4 linked regions of the Homo sapiens genome follow. The protein of the gene in region 3 purifies or fractionates together with the protein of the main gene of each other region. This does not show direct contact. Each region holds a gene or a part of one and is shown on either strand. Other genes may lie near its edges. The genes, in order: COP1, UTP25, MVP and TEP1.

Region 1 (5,973 bases), on a different chromosome or scaffold from region 3:
CACTGCACTCCAGCTGGGGCGACAGTATGAGACTCCCATCTCAAAAAAAGATAAAAAAGAAATGCAAAATGGTAGAGGCAGTTTTTAAAAAGTTTTGCAGTTTATTTTAAAACTAAACATACACTTGGCAGAGAACTCAGCAATTCACTACTAGATATTTTTACCCTAAAAATGTGAAGACGTGTCTGCACAAAAACCTGAATGCTTACAGAATTTTCTAAATAATAGCCAAAAACTAGAAACAAGTCAAAAATCTTTTAACTAGCAAATATATAAGCAGTTCATGTTATATCCATATAATGGGATAATACTAAGCAATTAAAAGAAAAAAAACAGTACACTCAACATCATCAGTGTATTTCAAAACATTATACCAAACGAAAGAAACCAGACACAAAAGACTACCGACTAAAGGACTCCATTAATATGAAATTCCAGAAAAGGCAAAATGACAGCAATGCAAAGCAGATCACTGGTTGCCAGGTGTTAGGTGTGAAGGTAGACACAGAGTATGAAGTGCTGGCAAAAGTGAACTTTCTGGAAATGTATCATATCTTCATTAGGGTGGTGACTGCACAGGTGTATTCATGTGTCAAAACTCATTCAACTACACACTTATGACCAGTGACTTATTTTATGCAAATTATAACTTAGTAAAGCTAATTTTAAACAAAATCAGCCTCTAAATAAAGGCAAGGAAATGGGTGGTTAACTTGGGTAACCATTTGTAATAGTGGTTAAGAACCTGACCTCTGAGCCAAATTGTCTGAATATAAATACTGGTACCACCATTATTAACCGTGTAACTGAGACAAGTTATATAACCTCTATGGGCCACATTTCCTCATCTACAAAATGGGAACTATAAGAGTATCTACAGCAAACAGTTGTTGTGAAGATTAAACAAGTAACGTAAAACCTTTAAAATAGTGCCTGGCAAATAGCAATTTATATTTGAGCACTTATTATTATGAGTATTTGTCCCAAACTAATTGTCAGTACAACACATTCCATCTTCACTTGAGTGGACTTGGCATTTATGAACGTTTGAGTTTCAAATATCTAAAAGAACCCCCAAAACAGTCGTAATTTTTACAAAGCCTACTTTGTCTCATTATCTCTATTTAGAGCCAAATGCCCATCTGTGAATTAATACTAAAGACAGAGGATTCCAATGCACTAGACACTTGAGCATGGATCATGTGTTCCAATTCTGAATTTGGGGAAAAAATGTACCACCCCAAACCACACAGATTAGGAAAGAAGGATGGATTCCCAATGGTTACACCAGAAATACAATAAACAGAAATCAGATCACCTACTGCATTCTATGTTTCACTTTATATAGAAACAGAGGCAAAATCAGTTCATAAAACTTAATTGTGAAAAATGAAAGGACAACTAACATATTTTAAGTATAAAGAAAAACATGTTACTCTCAGTGAATATATTGTTTGAGAAAGTACCAACCTATCTGAATAGAACTTGGCTCATACACACATAAAGAAAGAGGACAAAGAACAAGTAAGGTGGAGGGCAAAGACAAGTCTGCACAAAAACCTGAATGCTTACAGAATTTTGTCCTACATACAACATCACATATAAAAACAGATCAAGAACTTTAAAAACAATTTAGCAGAGTTTCACTACATTGCCCAGGATGGACTCAAACTCCTGGAGCTGAGACTACAAGCATGCACCATCATGCCCAACTTAAAAAACATTTTATTTGGTATACAGGTTGAATATCCCTAATCTGAAAATCTGAAATCCAAAATCATGCAAAATCAAAAATTTTTTCAGTGCCAACATGACTATCAGAGGAAATGCTCACTGGAGCATTTTGGATTTCAGATTTTTCAGATTAAGGATACTAACCTGGTAAATATAATTTAAATATTCTAAAATTCGAAAACAAAAACCAAAAAAACCCCTAAAATCCAAAACACTTCTGGTCTCAAGCACTTCAGATAGAGGATACTCACCCTGTAATACAAATTTTAACAGGAAAAAGACGATGGGCTAATTCCACCGTCAAAAAAGCCTTTCCTCCCAAGCTGTGGAAGTTTTCTGAGGAAAAGGGTAGCAGGTTAAAATAATTATATAAAATATGAAAAAATCACCATTAAGAAAAAACATACACATACAAGAAGGAAAAGTAAGCAACAAGGTTTAAGGCTACAGTTACTTTAATCAGTAACAGTTCTTAGATGGAACATATCCACCTATGTAATGTTGGCTCATTATCAGAAAAGGTATAAAGATTTGTAAAAGGAAAAGATAACTGCTTATCAACACATTCTTTAGTAATGAACTACTATTGCACAAGTACCTTCTTCTCAATTTATAGACTACAATTCCAAGTTAATAGTCTTCCTATCCTGTTTCATGATCATCTATTTTCTCTACCATTTAATTCACCCATAGAAGTCTCCTGCTACCATTGATGCTGATGCCCCACCATCTGATAGTCCACAGGTCTGACAGTACCAATAGGTCTGATAAAATATGACATCATCTCCTGCAGAGTATGTTTCATCATTGACATCCAAATGGCACATGTATTATAAAGCAAAAGAAGCATCAAGTTTGACTTTTGCAGATTCAAATAAGTTCTTGACAGATATTACTATAATAATATAATAAATGCTGGTTTATTCCAGTAACTGAACATGCTTTTAACAGCTCTTTAAATTATATTTAGTCCTATATTTATAAGCTCACAATGGTCTAAAAAGAAAAGTCACTTAAACTTTCCACTTTCCTATCAGAGGAAATTCAGTCCTATAATTCAGTGACTTTAAAAAAAATTTTACCAGTGTACCCAGTGAGAAATACATTCCACATACATTGCTGCACAAACTGTTACTGTCTTTATTACGACAGATTCTATGATACGTTCTAGTTCACTTTTTTTTTTTTTTTTTTTTTGGAGACAGGGTCTCACTTTGTCGTCCAGGCTGGAGTGCAGTGGTGTGATCATAGCTCCCTGCAGCCTCGACCTCACAGGCTCAAGTGATCCTCCCATCTCAGCTTCTTGAGTAGCTGGGACTACAGGCACAAGCCACCACACAGGCTAATTTTTGTATTTTTTGTAGAGATGGGGTTTCGTCATGTTGCCCAGGATGGTCTCAAACTCCTGGGTTCAAGTAATCCTCCTGCCCTGGCCTACCAAAGGGCTGGGATTACAGGCGTGAACCAAGGTGCCCACCCTCACTTTTTAATAGTCTGAAAAACAGAGCCACGTGTTTTTCAGACTATTAAAAATATCCTGGGATTACAGGTGGTGGCACCCGTCTCTAATCCCCGCTGCTTGAGAGGCTAAGACATGAAGATTGCTTGAGCCCAGGAGTTTGAGACTAGCCTGGGCAACATAGGGAGAGCCCTGTCTCAAAAAAAGGAAAAAAAAAATTGGAAACCAGTTATATTAACAAGAATGGTCAACAGGCTTCATTTTTAGTGCTAAAATGTAATTAATAGGTAATGGCTATATATTGTACTATGCATAGTCCATTAGAGTATTTAACATCTGCCATGGCACTAAGAAAAAGGAATGGTACTAACATCTGTCATGACACTAAGAGAGGCAATGATACCAGGTTATGATATTATAATTACACAGTTAAAAGCCATTCTTCGAATTAAATCATGAGCTCCTTAAGAAGAGAGAATCTTAGTTTAACACAAAATAGGCAGTCACATATTTACTGAATGGTAGATCTATTTAATGTAGATCCTAACTATTTTCTATCAAGCAGATGATTAAAAGTCAACCTTCTCGGCCGGGCGCGGTGGCTCACGCCTGTAATCCCAGCACTTTGGGAGGCAGAGGCGGGCGGATCATGAGGTCAGGAGATCGAGACCATCCTGGCTAACACAGTGAAACCCCGCCTCTACTAAAAATACAAAAAATTAGCCGGGCGGGGTGGCCGGCGCCTGTAGTCCCAGCTACTCGGGAGGCTGAGGCAGGAGAATGGCGTGAACCCGGGAGGCGGAGCTTGCAGTGAGCCGAGATCGCACCACTGCACTCCAGCCTGGGCAGCAGAGCGAGACTCCGTCTCAAAAAAAAAGAAAAAAAGTCAACCTTCTCATAAAGAGCTTACTATCTACATGCAAACGTATACTTCTGCTGCAAGAATGGCTGGGACTTGCAGAGGTAGAAAACTTCATTTGAGATAGCTGGAAAAGCTAATACAAAGGCAGTAGTTATAGAATTGTTTAAAAAAGGAGTCCGTATAAAAAACAGAAGTCATCTTTCAAATACAGACCAGACTCACAGTCTAGTTAAATGAACCGTAAGAAAATTTTGCAAAAAACAAAATAACAAAGACTTCCTCTGAATGTTGAAAATGTATCCAATGTCAAGCTAAATACTACTGTCCTGTATTAGATTCTCCATCAATAAAACACTGTTAAAATTATTCAACTTGATAATACCTTCAATCTTTTGTGTAAAATAAAATATAAAAATGCAACCTAAACCCCTAAAATGTTTATGAATTCTTCAATTAAATATAAACTTACTTTCAAATATAAGTCAGGAGAGGCCAATGTTTATTACTGAAATTAGGTACGTGACTATTTAAATCAACAGTTCTCAAGGAGGGGAGAAGGACAGGTCCCTATCACCAGGGGAGCATATGCAAATTACACCACCCACCCCAGCCTCCAATTCAGGTACGTCTTCTTGGGATGTGGGCAGGTAAGAAAAGGGAGTGGTGAGGGATAAAACATTTATCTCATATGATTATGAAACAGCTGCTTCTCCTCCAATCTGTGCCGTTTAAGAACCACTGGGCTAAATACATGTACTCGAACTTACAGATCTGAAACTCTCTAATTGCACACAAAGAAAACACAAAGTTGAGAACTGGGAAATCTGAGTTCTCATTTTGTCCTTACCTGTCCAACGACAAACAAAATTACTTCTCTGTGCCTCAATGAGAAAATAATTAGTATTGTATTAAAAATAAGTTATATATAACATCACAGAATTGTTCTAAGGATAAAATAAAACGTGAAGCATAAGCATATCTTTAAAATGTCCCATAAATGAATAAGAAATTATCATTATTTGAACTTGGGCTTCGTTTAAATATAAAAGCATAGAATAATTTGAATTGGTTCACAGTTTGACCTTGGGGCATACAAGACAAGACCCACAGCCAAACGGGGGGAAAAAAAAAGAAAAAAAGGATTCCTTGGGCCTTGCCTAATCCATATCATCCTACCCCAAGAGTCTGGACAAAATCAAACCTGGCTTGAGTTTTAAATCAGATTCTCATTAATTAATTCTTCTGAATATTAAACCTCACCAGAAAAAGAAATAATTAACTAATGAGATTCTTAGAAAGTGAAATACTCAGGACCACGGTGGCTCACACCTGTAATCCCTCCCAGCACCTTGGGAGGCCGAGGCGAGCAGATCACCTGAGGTCAGGAGTTCAAGACCTGCCTGGCCAACATGGTGAAACCCCGTCTCCATTAAAAATACAAAAAATTAGGCAGGTGTGGTGGCAGGTGCCTGTAATCCCAGCTACTACTCGGGAGGCTGAGGCTGGAGAATTGCTTGAACCCGGGAGGCGGGGGTGGCAGTGAGCCAAGACGGTGCCACTGCACTCCAGCCTGAGTGACAGAGCAAGACTCCGTCTCAAATACAAATTTTTACTCTTTTAAAAAAAGAGTTCCCAATTCCCTATAGCATAGCCTGCAGTGCACTGAACTTCATATGGTGCCTGGCCGACAGTGAATGTCATACAAGTATCTCTTGAATGACAATGATCGATTCCTTATTCCTCACATCTTTTACTTTATTTTAGTGTACTTACACGGAGGCTAACATGTTTGTGTTCGTTAAGTATACTAAAAATTAAAATGCAAACAGTGGCTAAAAAGACAACTAAATTATGCACACCCCACTTTGTTTTATTAGCTTATTAGCTACTCGCACTATCGACTGTGTAGAAGTGCAAA
Region 2 (5,973 bases), on a different chromosome or scaffold from region 3:
TTGACCTTTTCCTAATTTCTACATACTAGTAGTTAGAATGTAACATTGCCTGTTTCTTTTTAGGGTTTCCAGAAAGGAAGCAAAGCCACAGATTTGTCAACTGGTAATGCTTTCTACCTTCTTTTTAATAGTTGGTTTTGGGTTGTTCCCACTAAGATTATATCTAATAATAAAGCTTGATTACATTTCTATTCCTTTTGATTTCAGATGCAAGCTATTATTTTGGCAGTATCACTTAATTTTAAATGCAGATGTCTATAAAAATGCCATTGTGATATCTAATACAGAAGCCACAGTTTGAAATTGTCCCAGGAGACTAGCCTATTAGGCCCTGTTACAGAGGCTTATCAGAGGGCTCTTAGTGAATCCTAAGAGGGAATATCTTTTTTGGTTAGCATAAAGGAGTCACAAATACAGTGCAAAATGAACAAAGGGCCTATCATATTACAACAAACTAAAAAAAAAAAAAAAGAAACCTGTTTTCTTTTGTTGTTTTGTAATTATCCTGTTGTTCTATTAAACCTGTGGCCTAATGCCTGGGACATAAATTAAATCTCATAACCTGAAGTTTTATGTTTTAAAAGTGGGGCAGTAGCAGTTTGGAGCATATGAAGAGCTTCTAGAATCATAGCTAGATTAGCAATTTTAAGTAAATTTGAATTTGGGCTTCGTTGAATAGATGTTGGCTTGATGATAGTTTTAGGGTAACAATAAGAACAATATAGTTTTTGTTCTTAAAATTCTCCTTTTCCTTTTAGTCAGAGAGTTCAGATTCTTCAGATTCTGAAAGCGACTCAGAGAGTGAACCACAACAAGTTTCTGGCTACCACAGACTACTTGCTACATTAAAGAATGTTTCTGAGGAAGAAGAGGAAGATGAGGAGGAGGAAGAGGAAGAAGACAGTATTGTAGATGATGCAGAAATGAACGATGAAGATGGTGGTAGCGATGTCAGTGTGGAAGAAGAGATGGCTGCAGAGTCTACTGAAAGTCCAGAGAGTAAGTGTCTTTACTATAGGCTCATCATCTTTGCCAGAACTATAGACAGTTCATCTCATGAGCATGGTACCTTATATACTGTGTGAGTTGGATGAAAGGACATGAATCCAAAATAGGGATTTACCCTTGTTGGGTTTGATTGTATCTTTGAGAATCTGATGGAAACACAGAACCTTCTTAGCACAGCTAGGCAGAAATAACATTTTTGCTTGTAATTTCAGGGACTTCATCAGTACTAGTGAAAGACCTCCTAATACAGAGGAAGGAGAACACAGTTCTGTCTTTGTGACTGTCTGAATTTATTGAAGAGGTTACTGTTCTTCTCTTAGGGAGACCAAGTTTGATGGAAGATAGACATAAATATATATAAAAAATTTCAAACAGTAGATTTGCGATTGCATGGAACAGCTAGATGTAAGGTGTTGAAGAGAGGCAGAGTGGTTGAACACTGCCAGTGTAAATTAGGGAAGGCTTCAGGGACTCTGTGTCACTCAGACTTGAAGGTGACTTTTTTCTTTAACTTCAAAATCACCTTCATTGAGGTATCATTTACATACAGTAAAACGTATCCAATTTAAATATACAGTCTGACAGGTTTTGACAAAGGTATACATCCAAATCAAGATACAGAACATTTCCATTACCTCCAAAAATTTTTCTTATCCTTTTGCAGTCAGTTCCCCACCCTTGGCATCAGGCAGCCACTGACCCGCCTTCTGTCACTGTAGATTAGTTTTGCCTGTTCTAGAAATTCATATAAATTGAATCATACAGTATGACTCCTTTTGTGTCTAGCTATTTTTGCTTCTCATGTTTTTCTAATTTATTTGTGTTGTGCATGTATTAGTCACTTACTACTTTTTAGTTGCTGGAATAGCATTCCATTGTCTGAATATAGCTGGGTGACTTTTTACTCATTATTTTAATGCCTATTTTTCTTATAGCCTTATTTTTTTTTTATACCTTCTGGTATTATATATCATTCCAGGTATTTTAACTGATCAGTTTTACTGAGATAAAAATTCATTGACTTACACTTAGGAGTTTGTTTTGTTTGTTTCTATTTTTCTTTGCTTTTTTGGATTTTTAAAAATGAAAATTTTTTTATCATTATAAAAATAATATATATTTACTGTAAACATTTAAGAGGGTAATATAGTTACCCTCTATCCCTGCTACCCAGAGATAAACACCTTTAGCATTGTATATAACCTTTCAGACTACATTTTTATGATTATATATGAGTATGTATATATATTTATGTGTATCTGTATAATGGCCTTATACATTTCCGTAACTTCCTACATCTGTGACTGTGGATTCACATTAGCTTCTTAATTACATAGTATTCCATTGTAAAAATATGATTGTACCCCATTGATAGACCCTTTTTCCCCCAGTTATTTCTTATAATCAGTGCTGCTTTGAACATCCTCTCATGTACATCTTAGTGTACTATGTCTGGTTACTATTTTAGAATAAGTTCCTAGAACTAGAAGTGGGTATATTAATTCGAAATCTCCAGAGAAACAGAACCGGTAGGATATGTGTGTATATGAGAAAGAGATCTGGCTCACGCCTGTAATCCCAACACTTTGGGAGGCTGAGGCAGGCAGATCGATTGAGCTTAGGAGTTTGAGACCAGCCTGGCCAACATGGCGAAACCCCATCTCTACAGAAAAATACAAAAATTAGCCAGGCATGGTGGTGCATGCCTGTAGTTTCAGCTACTCGGGAGCCTGAGGTGGAAAAATCACTTGAGCCCAAGAGGTGGAGGTTGCAGTGAGCCAAGATGACACCACTGCACTGCAGCCTGGGTGACAGAGCCAGACCCTGTCTCAATATATAAATAAATAAATAAACGCTCATCCAAAAATACCCTCGCAGAAACATCCAAAATAATGTTTGGCCAGATATCTGGGCACTGTGTCCCAGCCAAATTGAGACATAAAACCCACCATCATGCATCATGTGTTGATGATTAGGCTTAATTTTGAAATCTATGTTTTCTACCTGAATTTACCTAAATATAAATAGTATCAATGAACGCTATTGTTGGTATAGCCTAAGGAAATAAATTTTGTCAACAGAAGTATAATTTGTGAGTAAATAATTTTATAAAATGTTTCTCAAAACTGCAGATGTAGCTTTATCTGCTGACCCTGAGGGAAAAGAAGATGGGGAAGAGCCACCGGGCACATCACAAACATCCCCCGAAGAGTTCACAGATGCAAAACACGAGTCACTGTTCAGCCTGGAAACCAATTTTCTGGAAGAGGAAAGTGGAGACAACTCTTCTTTGAAAGCCTCTCAAGGTCATAGCACAGTGTGTGTTATTTGAATTCACCAGGTGCTTAGTATGGAATTTGTGTACTAATACACATTGAATCTATTATTGGAACAAACAGCAATAAAAACAGTTTAGTGGCTAGATCTAGAGCTGGGAAAAATAATTCTAAAAGGTATTTTGTGTTTCTCAGTGTTTAGGGGTTGGACGGGACATTTAGGAGAACAAACAAGAATGATGGTAGGGAAGGCCAGCTTCCCAGGCCTCACATTTTCATTATTGGAGTCAGGGGAAGATTTCTGATTTTCTCCCCAAGTAGGGAAAGAGAAAGAAAAAGAGGAAAAAATACTTCCTCTACCCCTCACTTGCTGTTCCTTTTTGGAGCAGTAATTTTTCAGATTTGCAAGACCCAGGGGTGGCTAATCTGAGTGGTCTTTATTACCAGGGAGACCCTCAAAAGCCAAAAAGCCCTACCCTGTGTCTCCTGCCTCCCACAGACTCTTGACCACTCCTGTGACCAAATGGCAGTCACGTGGTCAAGACGTGCCTATGGCGGGCTTTGATGGGTTCCTGCTGTCTCAAGTCCAGTTTCTCAGCCAGTGTCTGGGTGGGCAAGTCAGGTTGGTCTCGTTCTGTATCCTGATTGCCTTCATTGATCTCATTGCCATTCTTCAACCCAGCTTTACCTTTAATGAAACAGAAATTTTAATCCTCATTTGACTCATTTAGTTCTGTTGGTTATTTTGCAGGAGAAGAAGTGACAGGTAGAATTTGTAGATTTTAGTACAAACTCCATTCTGAACCATTAAAACTTAGAAACTTTGGAGGAAACATTAGGAAGCTTGACTGTCCCATAATTTCTGTGGTTGTTTTGCTCATACAGATATATTAGCATCTAGAATTCTTATGTCCTGTTGTTCACTCTTAGATATTTAATACAAGATGCATTTCATTTGAAATTTTACTGTTTGGATGCTTGGATGGGTCATTTAACTTTGTTCTGTTTCTTATGAGTGGGACTGGGAGAGAAGGTTGGGTGGCTAGCTCAGAATACTAAAGATTACTTGGAGTGCAGATGCTATCATGTGGATCATTTGTTCAATTCAGTGGAGTATTGGTCATATCTGTGTGTCCCAGTGCAAGATCAATCAGACATGGAACCTGTTCTTAGAGACCTTGCAGTCTGCTAGATAAGACATGTATATATGTATATGTGTTGGAATGGGTGGGTTGGGCAGAGTAGGAGACTTGAGAAAGTGATGACTCTAGGGAACAAGGTGAGCCAACGTTGTGCCTAACACAGTAAGCCTGGGAAGTATTTATTGTGATTCAGTGGGTAACATTAAATTGATAACATTTGGATATGCAAAAATGAAGTGAAGGAGAGGCTGGAATTTTTAGTTGAAGGAAGGAAAAGCACAGAGGCAGAAGAATTTGAGGGCCATATAGTCCAGAAATGATAACGGAGATGCAGGTTGGAGGTATATCCTAAAGTGCTCTGAATTCCAGGCTGAGAAGTTTCTTCAAAAGTTTTCAAGCTGGGAAGTAATATAATTAGAGAAATGTTTTAGGAAAATGAACCTTTCAGAAGTTTTTAAGCTCTGGACTTGGCCAGAGGGTGGGGAAAGTCAATGGAGAAAAGGATGAGTTAACACAATGAAGATCAACATGTCTTTCACAGGGGAAGACCACAAAACCCCTCTGTAGTTGCATAGTGTGCTGACATTTTTTATTTCTGAATTAGATCCATTTCTTCAACATGTGAACAAAGAACTGAAAGAAAAAGCAATTCAGGCTGTTGCCACAAATCCCAAAACTACCCACGAGCTTAAAGTAAGTGTTGCTTGGTCATCCCGGTCACAAATAGAGAAAGCTCTAAATAAAACAGTGGTCTTGGGTTTTAGTGGCCTCCCAGAATGTATGATATACACCTGCAGTAGATGGCTTGATAGGGAAGCAGGGCATAAGGAAGGCTAGAAGAGCCTAGTGGGGCACAGTTGTAGCTAGAAAACGCACCAGGAAGCTGGAGTGTGGGTGCCAGATAATATAATGATGGGTAAGAGTGGATTTGGAGACCAACATCTTCAAGGAGCTATCACATTTTGACCCAAGGCAAGTTCATCTGCTTTTTTGCTATTCACTATTCTAGTCTGCTAGAGGGGGATAATAATACCTATCTCAAAATAGAATAGTTTACTAATACATAGTGTTCAGTAAAACAGTGTTCATTAAAACAGTAGGTACTACTGTTGTTCATTTGTTTGAAATATCTGAGGTAGGTCCACAAATAAATTATCCAGATATTGGGCAGTTTTTGCTTCTTTGTTCTTACCACTGATGCCATTCATGAGAGTTGGTCATCCTTTTTTTAATTGAAATTTTTATTGAGGGAATAATTATAGATATACATGCAGTTGTAAGAAATCATACAAAGACATCTTGTACCCTTTGCCCAGTTTTCCTCAGTGGTGAAATCTTGTAGAACTGTAGTATAATGTCACAGCCAGGAAACTGACATTGATATAATCTACCAGTCTTACTCAGATCTGGTTTTACTCCTGTTCAACTGCATATGCCTGTGCCTATATTTATATACAATTTTATCATGCATAGGTTCCTGTATCTACTCCTGCCATCAAGATGCAGAACATTTCCAGCAAAATACAAATCCTTGTTGCCCTTTTATA
Region 3 (5,973 bases):
TGCAATCGGAGCTGTGTTTTTGTTTTTGAGACAGAGTCTCGCTCTGTCCCCCAGGCCAGAGTACAATGGCGCAATCTCGACTCACTGCAACCTCTGCATCCCTGGTTCAAGCAATTCTCCTGCCTCAGCCTCCCGAGTAGCTGAGACTACAGTTGCCTGCCACCATGTACGGCTAATTTTTGTATTTTTAGTAGAGACGAAGTTTCACCATGTTGGCCAGGCTGGTCTCGAACTCCTGAGCTCAGGCAATCCGCCTGCCTTGGCCTCCCAAAGTGCTGGGATTACAGCCACTGCGCCCGGCCTGAAACTGATCTTTATCCTCCTCCCAGTTCCTACTGTGCACCAGAGACCCTCCAGTCTCTAATACCTTTGACTTGAAGAGCAGTCATTTTTTTTTCCTTTTCTTTTCTTTTCTTTTTTTTTTTTTTTTTTTTGAGATGGCCTCACTCTTGCCCAGGCTAGAGCGCACTCGTGTGCTCCATTTACGGCTCACTGCAGCCTTGACCTCCCAGGCACAGGCGATCCTCCCACCTCAGCCTCCAAAGTAGCAGGGACCACAGGTGTGCACCACCACACCTAGCTAATATTTTTTATGGTTTTTATAGAGACAGGGTCTCCCTATGTTGCCCAGGCTGGTCTTGAACTCCTGGCCTCAAGTGATCCTCCCATCTTGGTCTCCCAAAGTGCTGGGATTACAGGTGGGAGCCACCAAGCCTAGTCAACAGTCACTTTTATTCTCACTTCACTGGAGAGGAAGGCTCAGAGGCTAGTAAGTGGCCCAGGAGCATGCTGGCAGTGATAAAACCTGCTGGAGTGACATTTTCCCACTGGCTCTCAATCCTGGATATATATTAAGAGTCAGAGGCCAGGCGCGGTGGCTCACGCCTGTAATCCCAGCACTTTGGGAGGCCAAGGCAGGCGGATCACGAGGTTAGGAGATCAAGACCATCCTGGCTAACACAGTGAAACCCCATCTCTACTAAAAATACAAAAAAAATTAGCTAGGCGTGGTGGTGGGTGCCTGTAATCCCAGCTGAGGCAGGAGAATGGCATGAACCCGGGAGGCGGAGCTGCAGTGATCCGAGATCGTGCCACTGCACTCCAGCCTGGGTGACAGAGCGAGACTCGTCTCAGAAAAAAAAAAAAAAAATGAGGGAGAACTTTTTACAATAGCAACGGGTGAACCTCACCCAGACCAATTAAATAGAATCACCGGAGATGGGTGGCTTTAAAAAAAGGTCTCCAGAAGGCCTGGCGCGGCAGATCACACCTGTTATCCTAGCCCTTTGGGAGGCCGAGGTGGGTGGATCACTTCCAGCCTGACCAACATGGCGAAACCCTGTCCACTAAAAACAAAATTATCTGGGTGTGGTGGCGGACATCTGTAATCCCAGCTACTTGGGAGGCTGAAGCAGGAGAATTGCTTGAACTCGGGAGGCAGAGGTTGCAGTGAGCCGAGATGGCTACACTCCAGTCTGGGCAACAAGCACGAAACTCCATCTCAAAAAAAAAAAAAAAAAAAAAAAAAAAAAACAGATTTCCAGATGACCAGTGTGCAGCCCGAGCCGAGAGTCTGCTTTAGACCAGAGCTGCTCAGACTGTAATGTGCATGCAAGTCATTGAGGGTCGAGTTAAAATGCCAGTAGATTCAGTGGCTCTGGGGTGGGGCCCCAGGCTGTGTTGCTATCAAGCCTCCAGGTGGTACCACTCTACTCACTGCAGACCCCGTAGGCAGTGTGGTCACTTGGTCAATTGCCATTTAAGACTCACTAGGGGCCAGGTGTGGTGGTTCACGCCTGTAATCCTAGCACTTTGGGAGGCTGAGGCAGGCAGATTGCCTGAGCTCAGGAGTTTGAGACCACCCTGGGGTGAAACCCCATCTCTACTAAAATACAAAAAATTAGCCAGGCTTGGTGGCATGTGCCTGTAATTCCAGCTACTCGGGAGGCTGAGGCACGAGAATTGCTTGAACCTGGGAGGTAGGTGGACGTTGCAGTGAGCCGAGATTGTGCCACTTCACTCCAGCCTGGGCTACAGTCTCCAAAAAAAACAAAAAAGAGATTCAGTATATCAGCTACTCACAGTTGACCCTGAAGATCTCTGGGAAGTAGTGACTCATGACTCGTTTATTTATTAAGTTTTGCTGTAGCAGAAGTTTACTTTTGAGCCAAGAGTCTGATCCGGTCTCCCTCTTTTTTTTTTTTTTCTTTCTTTAAAGAGATGGGGCCTTGCTATGTTGCCCAAGCTGGTCTTGAACTCCTGGCCTCAATCCATCCTCCCACCTTCGGCCTCCCAAAGTGTTGGGATTACAGGTGTGAGCCACCTCTCTCAGGCAAGAGCCCCTCTTTTAACTAGACAATGAACCTGGTTTCTGCTTTGGACAGGCTATTTAGTTCCTGCTTATTTACCCTCATGGTGGGAGAGACCCTGGTGGGATTTGGGGTGAAAGCTGGCTGTGGTTCTTGCAGGAGCCTCATGACACCTGAGGGAGGTGTGATCAGGCAAGACTGGGCCTCTACACTGAGAGCCGACTAGGGCAGGTCTCAGAAGCAGAGACTGAAGGAAGTTGGGTGGATGAGTGGATCTGGGGAGCAGGGGCCAAGCCTGAGGGCTGGGCAGAGCCTTCCAAAGGTCAACACAATCCTTGCTATTGTCTTTTGAGGGCCCTGATCTATTTTAAGTAAAATGCTCTAACTGCGCATGTCATCTGGAAGGAAACCACAAAAAACTCAATCTGAGACTTGTCACCAATGTGCTGCCTGAGTCAAAGGGTTTCCCTGGCTCACCTCCATAGATGGCGAGGGTAGAAGGCAAGACCTGTCCTGGGTGGTCTAGGCAGAAGGCCCAGGTTTAGGGCATGGCAGGTGGGTGGTCAGGGAGGTGAGGTGGGGTCCTGGTGCTGATGCAGGGGCAGTTGCCGAGGGCTTGGCCTCAGAACAAGGCAGGAGTCCAGCCATGAGGATGACTCTTGCTGAGTCACTGAGCTGGGCGAGGCATTCAGACCCCCTGACTGGGCCCAGCTGGGGCGGCAGATGGTGGAGAGGCCTCAGCTGTGGGGGGTGTTGGGGAGATTATCCACTGATGAACCAAATGGAGGCTGTTCCCAGAGCCTGCTTCCAACCTTGCACGGCCTTCTAGAGTTCAAATCTTTCCTGGGGGGGCCTCAGAGCCCTGTCCATACCTCCGCTCACAGCCCCAGCCCTTCCTCTTCTCCCATCTGGTTTCCTGGCCAGGTTTCGGCCCTGCGGAGAACCCTCCAAGGGAGCAGTGGAAAAAGCTTCACTTGGCAGTAAAGCCCCTACTTGCTGTTCCATCCCTGCAGCTGGGGTGAAATAAGCCACTGACCAGTAAACAACTGAGGCTTAAACCAGCATGCCAGCTCAGGTGGGGAGCCCCCAGCACTGGTTATATTCCCTAGATTCCTCACTGGATAGGAAAGTTGGGCCTCAGGCACTCTTCCCTCCTCTGCAGTCAAACAGTGCAGATGAAGAGCCAGGCTCTGTTCCCAGTGCTTTATGTGCTAACTTGGTTGATAATGTTATCCATTCTCATTTTGTAGATGAGGAAACAGGCACAGGGTGGTCAAGGGACTTGTTCAAATCACTGATCCCATAAGGGTGAGAGCCAAGATCCAGGCATCCTGGCTGGGTGCGGTGGCTCCACCTGTAGTCCCAGTGCTTTGGGAAGCTAAGGCTGGATGACTACTTAAGACCAGGATTTTGAGACCAGCCTGGACAACAAAGACCTTATGCCTACAAAAAATTAAAAATTAGCTAGGTGTGGCAGTACGTATCTACAGTCCCAGCTACTCGGGAGGCTGAGATGGGAGGATCCCTTGAGCTGAGGAGTTCAAGGCTACAGTGAGCTGTGATCACTGCACTCCAGCCTGGGCAACAAAGTAAGACCTTATCTCAAAAAAAAAAAAAAAAAAAGGCCGGGCGTGGTGGCTCACGCCTGTAATCCTAGCACTTTGGGAGGCCGAGGCGGGTGGATCACAAGGTCAAGAGATCAAGACCATCCTGGTCAACATGGTGAAACCCCGTCTCTACTAAAAAAAAAATACAAAAAGTTAGCTGGGCATGGTGGCAGGCGCTTGTAGTCCCAGCTACTTGGGAGGCTGAGGCAGGAGAATCATTTGAACTGGGGAGGCGGAGGTTGCGGTGAGCCGAGATTGCGCCACTGCACTCCAGCCTGGCGACAGAGTGAGAGTCCATCTCAAAAAAAAAAAAAAAAAAATCCAGATCTAGGCATTCCCAGCCCTCTGGACTCTAGGAAGTCGTCTTTCCAGAACAGAGCCCCGTATTGTGGAGCAACTGGGGGGTGGAATCAAAGGTGAGCAGGACAGGGCTATAGGAAGAAAAGACAAGGTCCCCATAAGAGTGGCGAGAGGAACAGAGCCAGGACATCGGAAAGCAAGCCCCTGTGTTCCCAAACCGCAGAAGAGGGAGCTCTGATGTTAGACAAGCCACCCTCCTACAAGCGAAGGGAAAGTAACTTTGAGCAAAAATGAGCAACAGAAAATGAGATCAAGGTCAGATCTCATACAAAGTTGCAAGATGAAAGAATGAGCAGCAGAATAACCTCCCTGTGATGTGGAAAGTGTGCCAGGAAAACAGACCCAAACTGTAACCTCTTTCAGAATGAGGCAAGGCAGTGAGGAAACTATGTGAAAACACGAAAGCAGCCGATCAGAGTTGTAAGCCCGGGCAGTCTGGGTTGGAATGGGTGCCCCGAGCCACGGGACCATGATGCCTCTCTAGAAAGACAGGACCAGGCATTCCACCAGGGTTCTAGTCCCAACAGCACCACTAACTTGCTTGTGGCCCTAAAGGATTCATTGTCCCTCTCTGGGTCTCAACTATTTAGAGCTCTACTGTCCAGTATGGGATCAACCAGCCATATTTGGCAATTTAAATTAAAATTAGCTGGGTACGGTAGCGTACCCCTGTAATCTCAGCACTTTAGGAGGCTGAAGCGGGAGGATTGCTTGAGCCCAGGAGTTCGAGACCAGCCTAGGCAACATAGCAGGACCTTGTCTCTGCAAAAAAAATGAAAAAATTAGCTAGGCGTGGTGGCACATGCCTGTAATCCCAGCTACTCGGGAGGCTGAGGTGGGAGGATCACTTGAGCCTGGAGGTTGAGGCTGCAGTGAGTCATGATTGTGCCACTGCATTCCTGCCTGGGCAACAGAACAAGACCTTGTCTCAAAAAATAATTTAAAAATTTAGTTCCTCAGATGCATTAGCCACATTTTATTTTATTTTTTTCCAAGACAGAGTCTTGCTCTGTCGCCCAGGGCTGTAGTGCAATGGCGAGATCTTGGCTCACTGCAACCTCTGCCTCCCAGGTTCAGGCAATTCTCCTGCCTCAGCCTCCCAAATAGCTGGGATTACAGGCACGTGCCACCATGCCCAGCTAATTTTTGTATTTTTAGTAGAGACAGGGTTTCTGCATGTTGGCCAGGCTGGTCTCAAACTCCTGACCTTGTGATCTGCCGACCTCAGCCTCCCAAAGTGCTGAGATTACAGGTGTGAGCCAGCATGACCGGCCATTAGCCACATTTTAAGTGTTCAGGAGCCACATGTGGATGTGGCTAGTCCAAAGACAGCACAGATTTAGAATATTCTCATCATTGTAGAAAGCTCTATTGGACGCTGCTGAGTAAAAGGGTTTTTTTGGTTTGGTTTTGAGATTGGAGTCTCGCTCTGTTGCCCAGGCTGGAGTGCAATGGCACGATCTCTGCTCACTGCAACCTCTGCCTCCCAGGTTCGAGCAATCCTCCTGTCTCAGCCCCCCTAGTAGCTGGGATTATAGGTACCCGCCACCACAACTGGCTAATTTTTGTATTTTTAGTAGAGACGGGGTTTCGCCATGTTGGCCAGGCTGGTCTCGAACTCCTGACCTCAGGTGATCCACCTGCCTTGGCCTCCCAAAGTGCTGGGATTACAGGCTTGAGCCACCACGCCCGGCCAA
Region 4 (5,808 bases), on a different chromosome or scaffold from region 3:
AGTGATGTGTTTTATTTCCAAGTGGAAGATTGAAGAGTTACTCGCCACGTGAAGCACAGAGCTCAAAATATGCGCAAAGTAGAGCAGGGCCTTCTCGCTGACCCTTAACGGGCCATGTGGCATGATTTAGAAATAAATCTTTGCTATTTTAAGTTGTTGAGATTTTGGGGTTGTTATGATAGCATAACTTTAATATTTTAACTGATAAAGAAACATACCCATCGTTCTGGATGAGAAGATTAGGTATTTGGAGGGTGGGAGGAGGGAGAAGATCAAGAAAAACAACTAATGGGTACTAGGCTTAATACCCGGGTGATGAAATAAACTGTACAACAAACCTCCATGACACAAGTTTACCTATGTAACAGACCTGCACTTGTACCCCTGAACTTAGAAAGAATACGAGTTTCACATTTTTTTGAAAACTAAAAAATTCGGTCCAGATTTTCTGATTGATTAAATATATACTAATAAATAAGACATTTATGAGAAAGAATAATGAGGTGATACTCGTACTGCTAGGTAACAAAAAGAACAGTCAAGTTAGCACTTATTGAATACTTACCACAAAAGTGTCACTGTTCTGTGTTTTACACCTTAACTCATTTAGTCCTTAAAACACTCCCATGAAGTAAGCACCATTATTATGGCTGTTGTACAAATGGGGGAAAGGAGGCATGAAGATTTGAACTCAGGCAGTCTTATTCCAAGTCCATGCTTTTTGCTGCTGTTACCCAGTCTCTCTAGAGTAGTGCTTCTCAAACCTTCTGAGATGAAGGACTAATTGTTCCTTTGTCTTTCTTTCTTCCTTCCTGCCTCCCTCCCGCCCTCCCTCTCTCTTTCTTGCTTTCTTTTTTTTCTTTTTTTTTTTTTTTTGACCAAGTTTCATTCTTGTTGCCCAGCCTGGAGTGCAATGATGCGATCTCGGCTCACTGCAACCTCTGCCCCCTGAGTTCAAGCGATTCTCCTGCCTCAGCCCCCCAAGTAGCTGGGATTACAGGTGCCTGCCACCATGCCCAGCTAATTTTTTGTATTTTTAGTAGAGACGGGGTTTCACCATATTGGCCAGGCTCGCCTCGAACTCCAGACCCCAGGTGATCCACCCGCCTTGGCCTTTCAAAGTGCTGGGATTATAGGCGTGAGCCACCGTGCCTGGCCTGTTTTAATTTCTTATCTGTCACGGAATAATACTTTTATAAAATATAATCAAAATGGATTATTAAGAAAATGAAATTAAAAAGCACACAAAATACAAGCCTCCATTTTTATTATTAAATTTGTCAGATATTACTTTTTAAATTCCTACACAGTTTCTAAATGGTTACTCTCAACTTCCGTACTTATCTCATTATAAAACATTAACAATTTGTGAACTGGCACTAGTCCATGAACCAAACTTTGAGTACCTCTGCTCTAGATTTCAAAAACAGATGTGGATATATGTGTAAAAATTTGGTATATAAAAAAGATGCTTTTCTAGATGGGTAGAAGAAAAGATTGTTCAAATGTCCTATGGTCTCACAATCCAGTGGTTATAACTGTAAAACTCATCCAGCCTTTGGGAGACACTGAAACTCCATTTAAAGATAAGAACTTGAAGGATGTTTAATGTAAACCTAAATTGATTTTCCCTTCAACTCCTTTTGGGTACATAATTACTTTTACCTAGAAGCTGTTCTTGACTTTACTCATAACAATTATACCATGACCTCACTGTCCTTCTCCAAGATGAAACAAAAAACCCTTCAAGTGGGCCTGGCCAACAAGACTGAATCTATTGAGCCTATTGGTCAAGTTAGCCTTTGCTTAACTTTCCCCAACCCCTTCACTCCAGCCTTAGCTGGGATGCTTTTATATAATTTTCAGAGCATGGAAGAGAGACAAATAGAGCTTCCTCCTGCAATTGGCCCAAGATTTTAGGGGAGCAAAAGGCAAAAGATTGAAATCAATGACTAGGATGATGCCATGCCATAGTTCGCTGCAGGATTTCTGGCAAGGATTATGGATCATAAATTTCAAAATACCATAACTAGGACTTCTAGTCACAAGGTAGATGTGGAAATGATGGTCCAGAAGGTATATTTCGAGGCTTGGCATGAGGCACATAAGAGAAGACAGAAGCATGGCCTATCAGCGGATGTCATCATCCTCTGGTCAGGATGGAAACCAGGGCATTGGATAGAAATAAAGTCCCTCAGGTTATTTCTCCATGTAAAACCTGGAATCAGGGTACAGTGAGAGTAAAACTCAGTGCCCTTTAACTCCCCAAGTCTTCAAAACTCATTTCTAGACCAGGGTGTAGTGGTATTTCTCCAAGAGAAACCTACCAAACCAGGACAAAATCCCTGTAATAGCCTTCACTTATCTCCTACAAGTCCTTGAATTCTTGGCCACAGAAGACATTTCCTTCTTCTTTAACCCTCAGAAAGAAAGGGCCTGAGGAAACTAAAGTCAGTGGTTTCAATCTTTTGCCTTTTGCTCTCCTAAAAGCATGGGCCAAGGGCAGGAGGAAGCTCTAGTTGTCTGTCTCCCATGCTCTGAAAATTCTACAAAACACCCCAGCTAAGGCTGGAGTAACAGAGGAGGAAAGTTAAGCAAAGGCTAACCTGCTCAATAGATTCTTCCATATGATTGAATTTTAGAAATATAATAAAGTTCTTTTATGGGCCGGGCACAATGGCTCACGCCTGTAATCCCAGAACTTTAAGAGGCTGAGGTGTGCAGATAACCTGAGGTCAGGAGTTTGAGACCCACCTGGCCAACATGGTGAAACTTCGTCTCTACTGAAATACAAAAATTAGCTGGGCGTGGTGGTGGGCACCTGTAATCCCAGCTACTCGGGAGGCTAAGGCAGGAGAATCGCTTGAACCCAGGAAGCAGAGGTTGCACTGAGCTGAGATTGCACCATTGCACTCCAGCCTAGGTGACAGAGCCAGACTCTATCTCAAAAACAAAAAAAAAAAAAAAAGGTTTTTTACTTAAGAAAATCAGAGTTCATGGCTATGATTGTGCCACCTCTCAATTAGTTTTAATCTTTGTGAATTTCAATTTGAGAGAGAGTAAGACACTTTCGTGATCTCTTCTGAGAATGCCAATTACCATATTGACTAAAGTTGAAAGTCGTGTCAGAAGTTGGGAAAACCAGAAGGTTTGTTCCGCTTTCAATGGCTTGGCTCCTCACCTCTCATCTGGGTAGTTCTTTTTTTTTTTTTTTAGACAGAGTCTCGCTCTGTTGCCCAGGCTGGAGTGCAGTGGTGTCTCGGCTCACTGCAAGCTCCGCCTCCTGGGTTCACGCCATTCTCCTGCCTCAGCCTCCCAAGTAGCTGGGACTACAGGTGCCCGCCGCCACACCTGGCTAACTTTTTGTATTTTTTAGTAGAGACAGGGTTTCACTATGTTAGCCAGGATGGTCTTGATCTCCTGACCTCGTGATCTGCCCACCTCGGCCTCCCAAAGTGCTGGGATTACAAGCGTGAGCCACCATGCCCGGCCTCCTCTGGGTAGTTCTGAGAAAAGGGCTGTCTCTGTGACAGAAACATAGCTCTTTCTAAATGCCCTGATGCATGACTGACTTATTCTCCCTCCCTCATTCTTTCCCGATGAACTGAAAGGTCTTCCATGCTCTGTTCAAATTGAATGTTGGCCAACATCACTCTCATTCCTCCTCCTGGCAAGAATGGCATCCTAGGGTCCTAGGGCCCGCGAGTGATGCAAGAATTCTAAAACCTAGTTTCAAAAGAGTACCTACTAAAGATTTCATTCACTTTCTTGTGGTTCTAGTAAGGATTAATGTTGAATAAGAAGAGACACACATTAGAATGTACATATACATACACATAGAATATCCTCCTGTTCTAAATCCACATGAGAACACAGGCAGGCCTACACTTGAGATTTTTTGACACTTCATTTTTATAATTATCAAGAAATTATTAATTTTATAATTATTAAAAGCTACCAGTGTCTTCAGGCTTTGCATCTCTAGCACAAGGGGTATCATTATTCCCGAGTGGCACATCTTCATTCCCAATTCAGAAAGTACACATTGCCCTGCACGTCTCCCACGGCAAGCTGCAGGGTGGAGTTAGCGCCCAGCCAAGGTTCCAGGCAGCTCACTGACCCTTCGCATCGGAACAGGCCCAGCTACGATGGGAACAAAAATAGGGGAGGTCAGGGCTACAAGCCTCCTTACTAACTTATTTTTTCTCACATTAATGCCTTTTATTTAGAAACAGGTTAGTCATACATTGCAAGTGATTGAAGAAAACAGAATTTTGATCTTTTGCCCTTTCTTACTCTAAGTTTGCTGTCTTGTGACATCCCTTTGGGATAGGTGTGCAGGCGCACGCACACACACACACACACACACACACACACTTACCAGCTGCATACTGGGTCTCTCCCATAGCTTAACATCTCTGTCCTTCGAAGCTGTCACCAGCAACTCAGGTAGCACATGGAGGGCTGTGACAGAGCCCGAGTGAATCTCAAAGAGGAAAGGGGAGAGCAGAATGGTGAGTTCTCAGGGGCCCCTCCTCAGAGAAGCATCACAATGTGCTGTGTCAGACCTACAGCCCTCCTCCCTTAGTATTTCTTTTTTTTTTTTTTGAGACAAGAGTCTCGCTCTGTCGCCCAGGCTGGAGTGCAGTGGCGCAATCTCGGCTCACCGCAAGCTCTGCCTCCCGGGTTCACACCATTCTCCTGCCTCAGACTCCCGAGTAGCTGGGACTACAGGCACCCGCCACCACGCCCAGCTAATTTTTTGTATTTTTTAGTAGAGATGGGGTTTCACCGTGTTAGCCAGGATGGTCTTGATCTCCTGACCTCATTATCTGCCCGCCTAGGCCTCCCAAAGTGCTGGGATTATAGGTGTGAGCCACTGCTCCCAGCCCTCCCCTAGTATTTCTGACCCTTCCTTCAAACTCACCTTTCTACGCTGCCGTGTCTTTAGATGTGGTGTTGGCTCACTATCCATGCTGGCATCACTATCCATGCTGGCATCAGATTCCCTGCAGGTAGATGGGTCTGTCCCTGGAGTTTGGGTTTCTGGAGTGTTTGCTTTTTTCTGCCACATGTTACCTGTGGTCCATTCTCCTTCTGGGCTGCATTTGGCCAGGTTCCATAGGATCCCATCAGAGCTGGCACACAAAAATGAGGACTCTGCCATTTTAAGGACAGAATTAGAGCCAAGTCTCAGGGATCTGCCATCCACCCTGGGCCATCTCCCGGCTCCTCAGGTCCTCCTGTTACCACTCACCAGATTCAGGTTTGGCTTGAGTTATCGATATTAGGGTCCTACTAGGATTCTCTAAGTTTATATCAAAGTTCAGCCTCTCTTCAAACTCTCCTGATTCCTTTTGCCTCTGTGAAAGAATAGGTAATTTTGTTTAGCCTACCCATATGAGTCAACTTGTACCAGACAAAACAACAGTTTTCTGCTCTGGGCTGGTCAGGAATTTTTTTTTTTTTTAACTACAACTTAGATACAATCAAGTGCGCAAATTTTTTTTTTTTTGAGACGGAGTCTCACTCTGTCGCCCAGGCTGGAGTGCAGTGGCGTGATCTCGGTTCACTGCAACCTCTGCCTCCTGGGTTCAAGCGATTATCCTGCCTCAGCCTCCCAAGTAGCTGGGAACACCGGCGTGCGCCACCACACCCAGCTGATTTTTTTATTTTTAGTAAAGATGGGGTTTCACCATGTGGGCCAGGCTGGTCTCGAACTCCTGGCCTCAGGTGATCCACTGGCCTTGGCCTCCCAAAGTGCTGGGATTACAGGCGTGAGCCACTACACCTGGGTAAGTGCACAAA

Evidence for each region.
Region 1: the proteins of MVP (region 3) and COP1 purify together in Homo sapiens (affinity purification with mass spectrometry; 3 studies listed by BioGRID and IntAct, with this or other methods). This does not show direct contact.
Region 2: the proteins of MVP (region 3) and UTP25 fractionate together in Homo sapiens (co-fractionation; one large-scale study listed by BioGRID). This does not show direct contact.
Region 4: the proteins of MVP (region 3) and TEP1 purify together in Homo sapiens (affinity purification with western blotting; one study listed by BioGRID). This does not show direct contact.

What each region holds. Positions count from the first base shown.
Region 1 is NC_000001.11:176,199,276-176,205,248, forward strand, and holds part of COP1 (E3 ubiquitin-protein ligase COP1), read right to left. Parts: intron 1-5,973. UniProt on the Homo sapiens protein: E3 ubiquitin-protein ligase that mediates ubiquitination and subsequent proteasomal degradation of target proteins.
Region 2 is NC_000001.11:209,830,045-209,836,017, forward strand, and holds part of UTP25 (U3 small nucleolar RNA-associated protein 25 homolog), read left to right. Parts: intron 1-63; coding exon 64-103; intron 104-758; coding exon 759-999; intron 1,000-3,140; coding exon 3,141-3,314; intron 3,315-5,030; coding exon 5,031-5,119; intron 5,120-5,973. UniProt on the Homo sapiens protein: Component of the ribosomal small subunit processome for the biogenesis of ribosomes, functions in pre-ribosomal RNA (pre-rRNA) processing. Essential for embryonic development in part through the regulation of p53 pathway.
Region 3 is NC_000016.10:29,822,709-29,828,681, forward strand, and holds part of MVP (major vault protein), read left to right. Parts: intron 1-5,973. UniProt on the Homo sapiens protein: Required for normal vault structure. Vaults are multi-subunit structures that may act as scaffolds for proteins involved in signal transduction. Vaults may also play a role in nucleo-cytoplasmic transport.
Region 4 is NC_000014.9:20,364,417-20,370,224, forward strand, and holds the end of TEP1 (telomerase protein component 1), read right to left. Parts: intron 5,364-5,808; coding exon 5,258-5,363; intron 5,161-5,257; coding exon 4,928-5,160; intron 4,487-4,927; coding exon 4,382-4,486; intron 4,144-4,381; coding exon 4,021-4,143; 3' UTR 1,251-4,020; downstream 1-1,250. UniProt on the Homo sapiens protein: Component of the telomerase ribonucleoprotein complex that is essential for the replication of chromosome termini. Also a component of the ribonucleoprotein vaults particle, a multi-subunit structure involved in nucleo-cytoplasmic transport.